Linked DNA regions of Homo sapiens. The protein of the gene in region 1 interacts with the protein of each later gene in a pairwise test. Each region holds a gene or a part of one and is shown on either strand. Other genes may lie near its edges.

Region 1 (3,655 bases):
TATTTGTGCCTCTGATCTACTGAGCAGTTATAAGCAAACAGAATCAAAGTGACAGATGCCATCTTAGGCCTAGTCAATAGGGCAAAAGGGACATCGAATTTAGAATTAGAATCTAGGTGACAATCTATTACTTGCATGACTTGAGTAAGTTACTTAACCTCTCTCAGCGTCAGCTTCCTTGGGAAGATTAAATGCAGTCATACATCTGCCAGCACTTCAAATTGTCCCTGGTGCACAGTAGGTGCTGAAACAAATCAGCCCCTTCCCCCAGCCTACATTCTTATTCTAGAAGGTGGGGCATGGAAACCTAGAGAGGTGAACTTGCTCAAGGCCATGCTGCTAACCTGGGCTGGTAGAGGTTGCAGAATCCAAGTCCTCCGCCCCCGAGTCCAGTGCTCTAACAGCCCATGTTGTTAGAATGCCAGATGCAGAGATCCTGCCCTGCGGGAAGGCCTGGGAGTCAGAACAGAAAGTTCTGCTCCACGCTGTCTTCCCCTCACATGTTCATGCTCCTGGCCTGATTATATTTCTCTCAGGGAGTTTCCAGTGCTTCTCAAACACCATTTCATTTACTTACTGAAAGCCAGCCTGGCTACAGAAAGACCTAGGTTCAAATTGTGACTCTGCCATGTATTCCACCTGGAAAGTCACTTAAGATGAACTTCATAGGCTTGTAATGAGAATTAAAGAGATCATGGATGCAAAATGCCAAACACAATGCCTGACACACAATGGATGCTTAATTAATGACAGTTCTCTTCTTGTTCTCCCAACATCCTCTACAAGAGAGATCTAGAAAGAAAAACTGTGTTATATGACTATTGGGTGGCTCAAGGACAAAGCTCCACCTAGGGGTTAGAACATTCACTATTTCAGTGGTCTCACCTTTCATCCAAGAAAGAAAAGTACAAGTCAGACTTACAGGGTCTCTACTATATTCCCAGCACTGACCCAGGCACTTTGAAGCTTATTTAGCCCACATGATAACTGCCTGAGGAAGGCACTATTGCTCTTCCCATTTTCAGAACAGGTAACTGAAGGTCATAGAAGCTAATAGTATTGATCTTGATCACCCAACTAATTACTGCAACTTGAGTCCAGGTCTTGATGATCTTCAAGTTGATATCCACTATCCTGTATTGTCCTGAACACCGGAGGGTATAGAGATGACATATGCAGAAGCGTTTTGTAAACTGCGCAGCTCTATGCAAACACAAGATGTTAACTGTTCCCTTTCCCATTTAGTTGAAAAGCTTCAACTGCTCTGTTTCTCCTGAGGCAGTAGCCATCAAGACTCTGGAGGAGGTCATGGAGTCCCAATTTCCTTGAGTTTTAAAACAGAGTTGGGAATTAAGCTCTCTTGGGTTCCCAGGAATGTCACTGGGGAGTCATCCATGGCTTGTCAGATGTGTGACAGGAAGAAGAGGGGTCACTCCATTTTCAGATGGAGCCCTGAGTACTGTATTCACATTTGTGGAAGGGCATGCTTTCAGGTGATAGGATCTGCTGTGTGATGAGAAATGGAAATGAAACCCTGCAGGTCCCCTGAGGATTCAACCTTTCAAACAACTATTGAATTGCTCTTTCCCGGGCCTGTTTGAGCAGGCATTGCAAATCTTAAAAACAATAAGATGAATAATCATCACTGTTTGATCACTGCCATTTATTGAGTACCTTCTCCATGGCAGATGCTAAGATAAGACCTAACATGCATCATCTCTGATTTTACAAGTCTTCGAGGTTGCAGCCATGAAAATGCCCTGGTCAGCCATGATTGACCATGACAGGGGTACTAGTGCAGGCCTGTTCCTGCTGGACATGGAACCCCTCTAATGGCTTAAGGACTCCCACTGGCTGGCAGAAACTTTCTTAGAACAACACTGTAGTCTAAGACTCTTCCTACTGAATTCTCTTTCCTTCTCCCTCTCCTTTCATGGGGGTCAGGCCTGCACTGCAGTCTGGGGCTTCCTCTGCCTACTTCAGTTCCTTCCTGAACATTTTACAGGTGTTTCCCCCAATAATTCTCTTATATGCCTAATCCCATCTTGGTGCCTGCATCTCGAAGGAACTAACACAGTGGACAGGAGTCCCATTTTGCAGACAGACACTGGATCAATGATGAAGTTACTTGTGTAAGTCCTACAGCCAACAAATGTTAAGAGCTGGGGTTGTGTGCAGGTATGTTTGATTCCACAAGCCAAGTCTTAGAAGCATACTAGGCTTCCTCTCTAATGATCTATGCAGGCTTAACTGTGAGGACAGGGAGTGATGACACATTTCAGTTTGGCCCCTTTGTTTTGTCGATGAGAAACCTGAGACCAGTGAGGGAAAGGATTCGCCCATGGGTGCCAGTGGGAGGGGTGCACCTGGGCTGTGCACAGCCATTTCCCTCCTTTGGAGGCTGAGGGAGGAGGTCACAGGGAGGCCTCAGGGTATGGAGGGAGGTCAGGCTGGGGGGCTTAGTGTCTGACCCACCAGCCTGGCAGGCGGGAATGTGCCTGTAGAAGCCCACGGCCCTCTTGGGGAGAAGCCATGAAGTGAGGACTGAGTGCTGCCTGGAGGTGCTGGCTGGGATGCACAGGGAAGAGCTGTCAGGGTATGGGTCTAACACTGGAACAGCTGGGGGACATTCCCTGGATATCCCTGCATTGCCTTGAGGCTCTCCCATCCCTGTTTGATCCGTAAGCTCCAAGGAGACATGTTTCCCAGCCATAATGCCTTCTGATCCCAATCTCTTCTACTCTTTTCATTGGCAAGAGTCATTCTCACCCGGGTTTTCTTATATAATAATTATAAACTCATTCAGGGCCTGTGAGTGAAAAGGCACACATATACATTCAGGTCTAATATTCACTGAGCAACCATCAGCACAATGGTATGTGACCTCTTTGAATGCTGCACTAATGCTCCACTGTCTAGAAGGAGGCCAGACTGCTCTGGGGACCAGGTGCAGAGGGTGCCCTCAAGTGTCTAGTGTCAGAGAGAGAGGGGCTACTCCACTTTGGCCAGGGTGAACTTGAGTTGGTGATGACAAACATCTGCAGCTAGTCTATTTTTCTAATCTCACCCTCCAAACAGCCCCATCTTCTTGCAGGGAGGATGGGTGAAGGCATTTTCAAAAATGGACATCACATGTGACAAACAGGCAAAGGACCCTGACAGAGCCACAAAACTGACACGCTCATGAAAACTCAGACCGCTGACAATGGTGAGCGCCGACCAATTCAGCGCCAGGCGTGGAGGCTTCTGGCAAGAGTGGTGGGCTCTGTGCGTCCTGATGGTGGCAGCAGAGACCAGCTTGGGAGCCACCTGGCTCCTCTGCCCTAGCCCATTATGGCCTGAATCCAATCAATTTCAGTTCTCAGCACTTCTGAAAACGTGCGTGGCTTAGAGTGTCTGGCAGGGCTCAGGAGAGAAAAGCATTTCTCAGCCCCGGGACACATATATGCCTCCAGGCACTGGTTGTGGCTTGCAATCTGGGAGGGCAGGTGAACGGACACCCTCCCTCCTTGCACAGGCCTGGGATCTGCCTTACTCAACTCCCACTTCTACCAGGAGCAGAGGATCACCGCTGCCCAGCACCCCGCCCATCTGAATTCTGACTCTGGTGGCTTCAGAGAAGCAAGGTAGGGGCCAGTGCTGGTATGAAATGCCA
Region 2 (3,655 bases), on another chromosome or scaffold:
GGTCTCTAAGAAACAGCACAAAATTGACTCAACATTCCATGATCCTGTCCTCTCTTTCTCATCTGGAATTTAATTAATTTAATTTTCTTTCCTCTGTAAGGAAGGAAAATGGAGTAGCAGTCAACATTTGAGTTCAGTGATATGTTTGGCACTCTAGTAGGTGCTTAAATAGGTTATTTCATGAGAACAGCCTAAGACATAGACTCAGTCAAGGGAAGCAACTAACTAGTAATTGGCAAAGCCAAGATTTGAACCCAGATCTGAAGCCAAAGTCCATATTCTTCCAACCACAACACACAGTCCTCAAAACTGGAATTTTGGCATCATAGGTTTGTATGTTAACAAACAACACAGCATATCTTCCATCTCACTCAGCAAGTACAGTAAAATCTCATCAATTCAAATTCCAATGTCTAAATTTGTGATAACTCAGAAGGAGATAATGCTAAAAGTTTACCTTTGAAGAAGGTTACTGAGCAAATGTGAGAGCATGAGTGAGATGACATGGAGATGTTTAAGTACTTAGGGAGGTAAACTATTTGTTTCGACTTAGCCCACTGTTAGTAGGAGAATAACCATTGCTCATGGAAATAAGCCTTGCTTATCATTAAAATATTTTAGCAGGACTTCTGGTTAGAAATACTTTGCTAGCAGTTAGTTGGGGTATCTGAATACTGTCAAACAGAACTGCACACTCTAAGTAAACCTTTTCATTAATTTGGATGGGCCTCATAATGAGAAATCAGAATGAGTGAGGTTTAACTGTACTTCAAAATCTACAAATATAGGCTGCCCAAAAGACTAAGGGTGTGCTCGCTGCTTCTTGTAAGTCTCCAGCAGGCAGGAGTTGACGAAAGACTCAATAATCTCTGGACAGAACACATGGACTACTTACAGAATGAGCACTACATGATGACGATGAGGTTTTGGATAATGAACTGCAAGAGGCAGGTCCTCTGATCAGTCTGTTCAGCTGCTCCAACCATTCCTGGAAGTCCTGGTTGTTGTTACAATGGACCACAATTCTCTCCACTGTGTTACCTACATCCCCCAATTATGATCAGTTTGAAAACAAAAGGCAAGGAAAAACTTGAGCTTGTCCCATTCATAAATAGACTTCATACAACTAGGACTTGGGTGTGTATTTTCAGGGGTTTTCATACCTATGGGATAACCCTGCTGAAATTTCTATATCAGAAACAGATAACCTGTGATTACAAAGTAAATAAATATTCATGTCTGATTTAGAAAACTGTCCTTGATTTTTACTGCTTACAGAAGCTTAAAAGTAGTGTAAAACTTCACCATAAACAAACTTGCAATCCAAAAACATAAGCACATAGTCCATCTAGTTAAGTCTAAAGTGGGAATATTGTCCTGGTTCCCCTGGTATCAAAGTTGGAACAAGATCCAACTAAGACTATTTACAACCTTTTGGCAAACACCAAACCTTAAGCTCCTTCTTGGGAAAGAAGAGGGTAAGGCCATGATCCCAGTCTTAGCCACTGTGCCATATCAGCACCAACAGTCAGGCCACTACATATAAATGACACAGACCTGGCAAAAGGGATCATAAGCTAAAATGTCAGGGGGCATTACTGAAGCCTGGCATTATGCTCAATTTGTGAAGAAAATTTGATGGCTTTTCAGAACTTTTTAGAAATACAACCAAATCTTACTAACTCATGGGCTGATGATAAAATTGCTGATAAAAGTCCATATCTTTGGCTCCTCTGCCACCAGGGAACAAATGACAGAGGGGAAGAAAATTGCGTTTACATCAGTCCATTTCGTTATTCCTTAGCTCTCACAAGTAGCTCTCATGCAACAGAAAATTGAAACTAATGGCAAAGCCATGGCTTTTGAATGAGAGGAGACTTCTCTGTGCTATTGCTGTACCCTAATTATCCCAGGAAATGGAATATACTTTGCCATGCCCGCATAAAATTTGCTCGTGGCCTATGTAACAGGAAATAATGGCATTTATTTATTAAATTCCCCTTCATTCCAAAAAGAATTGGAAGTAGTTACATGAAAAAGAGAAAATTACCTACCAGTGATTTCAAATGTGCAGTCATTCCCTTCAATTTCATCTAATCTAGTCACCACCGTTCCTGCTATTGGTATTTTTCCCTATTAGAAAAAGAACATTCTCATTAATTCTGCAGTTATACAGGTCTCTGTTTATTTCACTTAGATTTTCTGACCCTCTCAGCAAGGCAAAACTATGGCTAGACGTATTTCTCCAGTCTGTCAATAGATAATATGTTTCCCTGCTCTAAATTTTAATCAGACTAAGAAAGCAAGGGGAAAATGTGGATTGTGTTTGGCTAACACACCCTAAACTATAAGATCAGGATTTACAAAGCAGTTTACTTTTCTAACACATTTTCATAAGAATCAGTAAAAAAAAGTGAAGGCTCAGATGTTATGAAAATTATTAATTGCCAGGCCAAGATGGAACAGGCAATAGTAACTTATAATACTCTATATGTTGGGAGCTGACTGAGGGACATTTAATTTCCTAAGGAGTTTAATAACATGCTTCTTAGAAGCCTGAATCATGTGCTGTGACTATAATAAGACAAACATAGGAGCAGGTCCCAGCTTTATGTTTTCTCAGCAATAATGACATGGGCCTGTACAATACTGCTGCTAATTTATCTAGTTTCCATTTATGCATGCAAAACCTAGTGCATAACTAAAGCGGTGGATATATTCAAGATAAACTCATTATACTAATACAAAGGTCTTTGATCTAAGGAACATCTGCTCTTACAAGCTCTTTAATTACAATGAAGGGTCAGAACATTCTGGTTCTCCTGGCTTGAGCTTTTAATGCCATAGTGGAGATATTGCATCTGGATGGAAACCTGTTTTCGTTAGGGGGTCTGCTATGTGTTTTATATGAAATTTACTAACCTGATAGATAAAGCCACTCATCCGAGGACTTGCAGATAACATTATCAGGACATTTGAAAATAACATAAGGTACCGCTCCTCTTTTTCCTGAGAGGGAATGAAAATAATACATGAAGAACAGAATTGGACACTTTATCTGTTGAGAATTTCTGGAATCACTGCCTTATAACATAGACCTTATATAAACAACTGAAACATTAACGGTAATTTTTTTTTTAAAAAAGATACCCAACTTGAAAACACAAAACTAGTTGAATTTTACTTTGACATGGACATAAACCCACAGTTTATCTCTCTTCTTCTTATACATAACAATTAAATACAAATAACCATGCTTGCTTTCCATGTATGAAAGCCTGAGAAGTCACCACAGTTTATGCAGCCAGTGAGATGTGCTAGACCTGGGCACAAAATAAGTCTCCAGGTTCACAAAATGAAAATATATTTTACTTTGAAAAAATGGCAAGATGAAGGGGTTTTCAGGTGATAAGAGATTTAGTATGCTCTAACATGTTTGTTAAAGTCGTATTCATAAAATTAGCTTTGGTCATTAAGAACAAGATAATTATTGGATTTATGTAAAACATAAAAGTAGATACACTTTCTTTTTTTTTTCTTGAGACGGAGTTTCGCTCTTTTTGCCCAGGTTGGAGTGCAATGGCACGATCTCGGCTCACCACAACCTCCACCTCCCGGGTTCAAGCGATTCTCCTGCCTCAGCCTCCCAAGTAGC

The links. Proteins that work in one complex are often made in the same cells at the same time.
Region 2: the proteins of TMEM108 (region 1) and ARHGEF6 interact in a two-hybrid assay, tested with the Homo sapiens proteins (one large-scale study listed by BioGRID and IntAct).

Annotation. Positions count from the first base shown.
Region 1 is NC_000003.12:133,384,275-133,387,929, reverse strand, and holds part of TMEM108 (transmembrane protein 108 isoform 1 precursor), read right to left. Parts: intron 1-3,655. UniProt on the Homo sapiens protein: Transmembrane protein required for proper cognitive functions. Involved in the development of dentate gyrus (DG) neuron circuitry, is necessary for AMPA receptors surface expression and proper excitatory postsynaptic currents of DG granule neurons.
Region 2 is NC_000023.11:136,679,836-136,683,490, forward strand, and holds part of ARHGEF6 (rho guanine nucleotide exchange factor 6), read right to left. Parts: intron 3,010-3,655; coding exon 2,923-3,009; intron 2,134-2,922; coding exon 2,055-2,133; intron 1,042-2,054; coding exon 896-1,041; intron 1-895. UniProt on the Homo sapiens protein: Acts as a RAC1 guanine nucleotide exchange factor (GEF).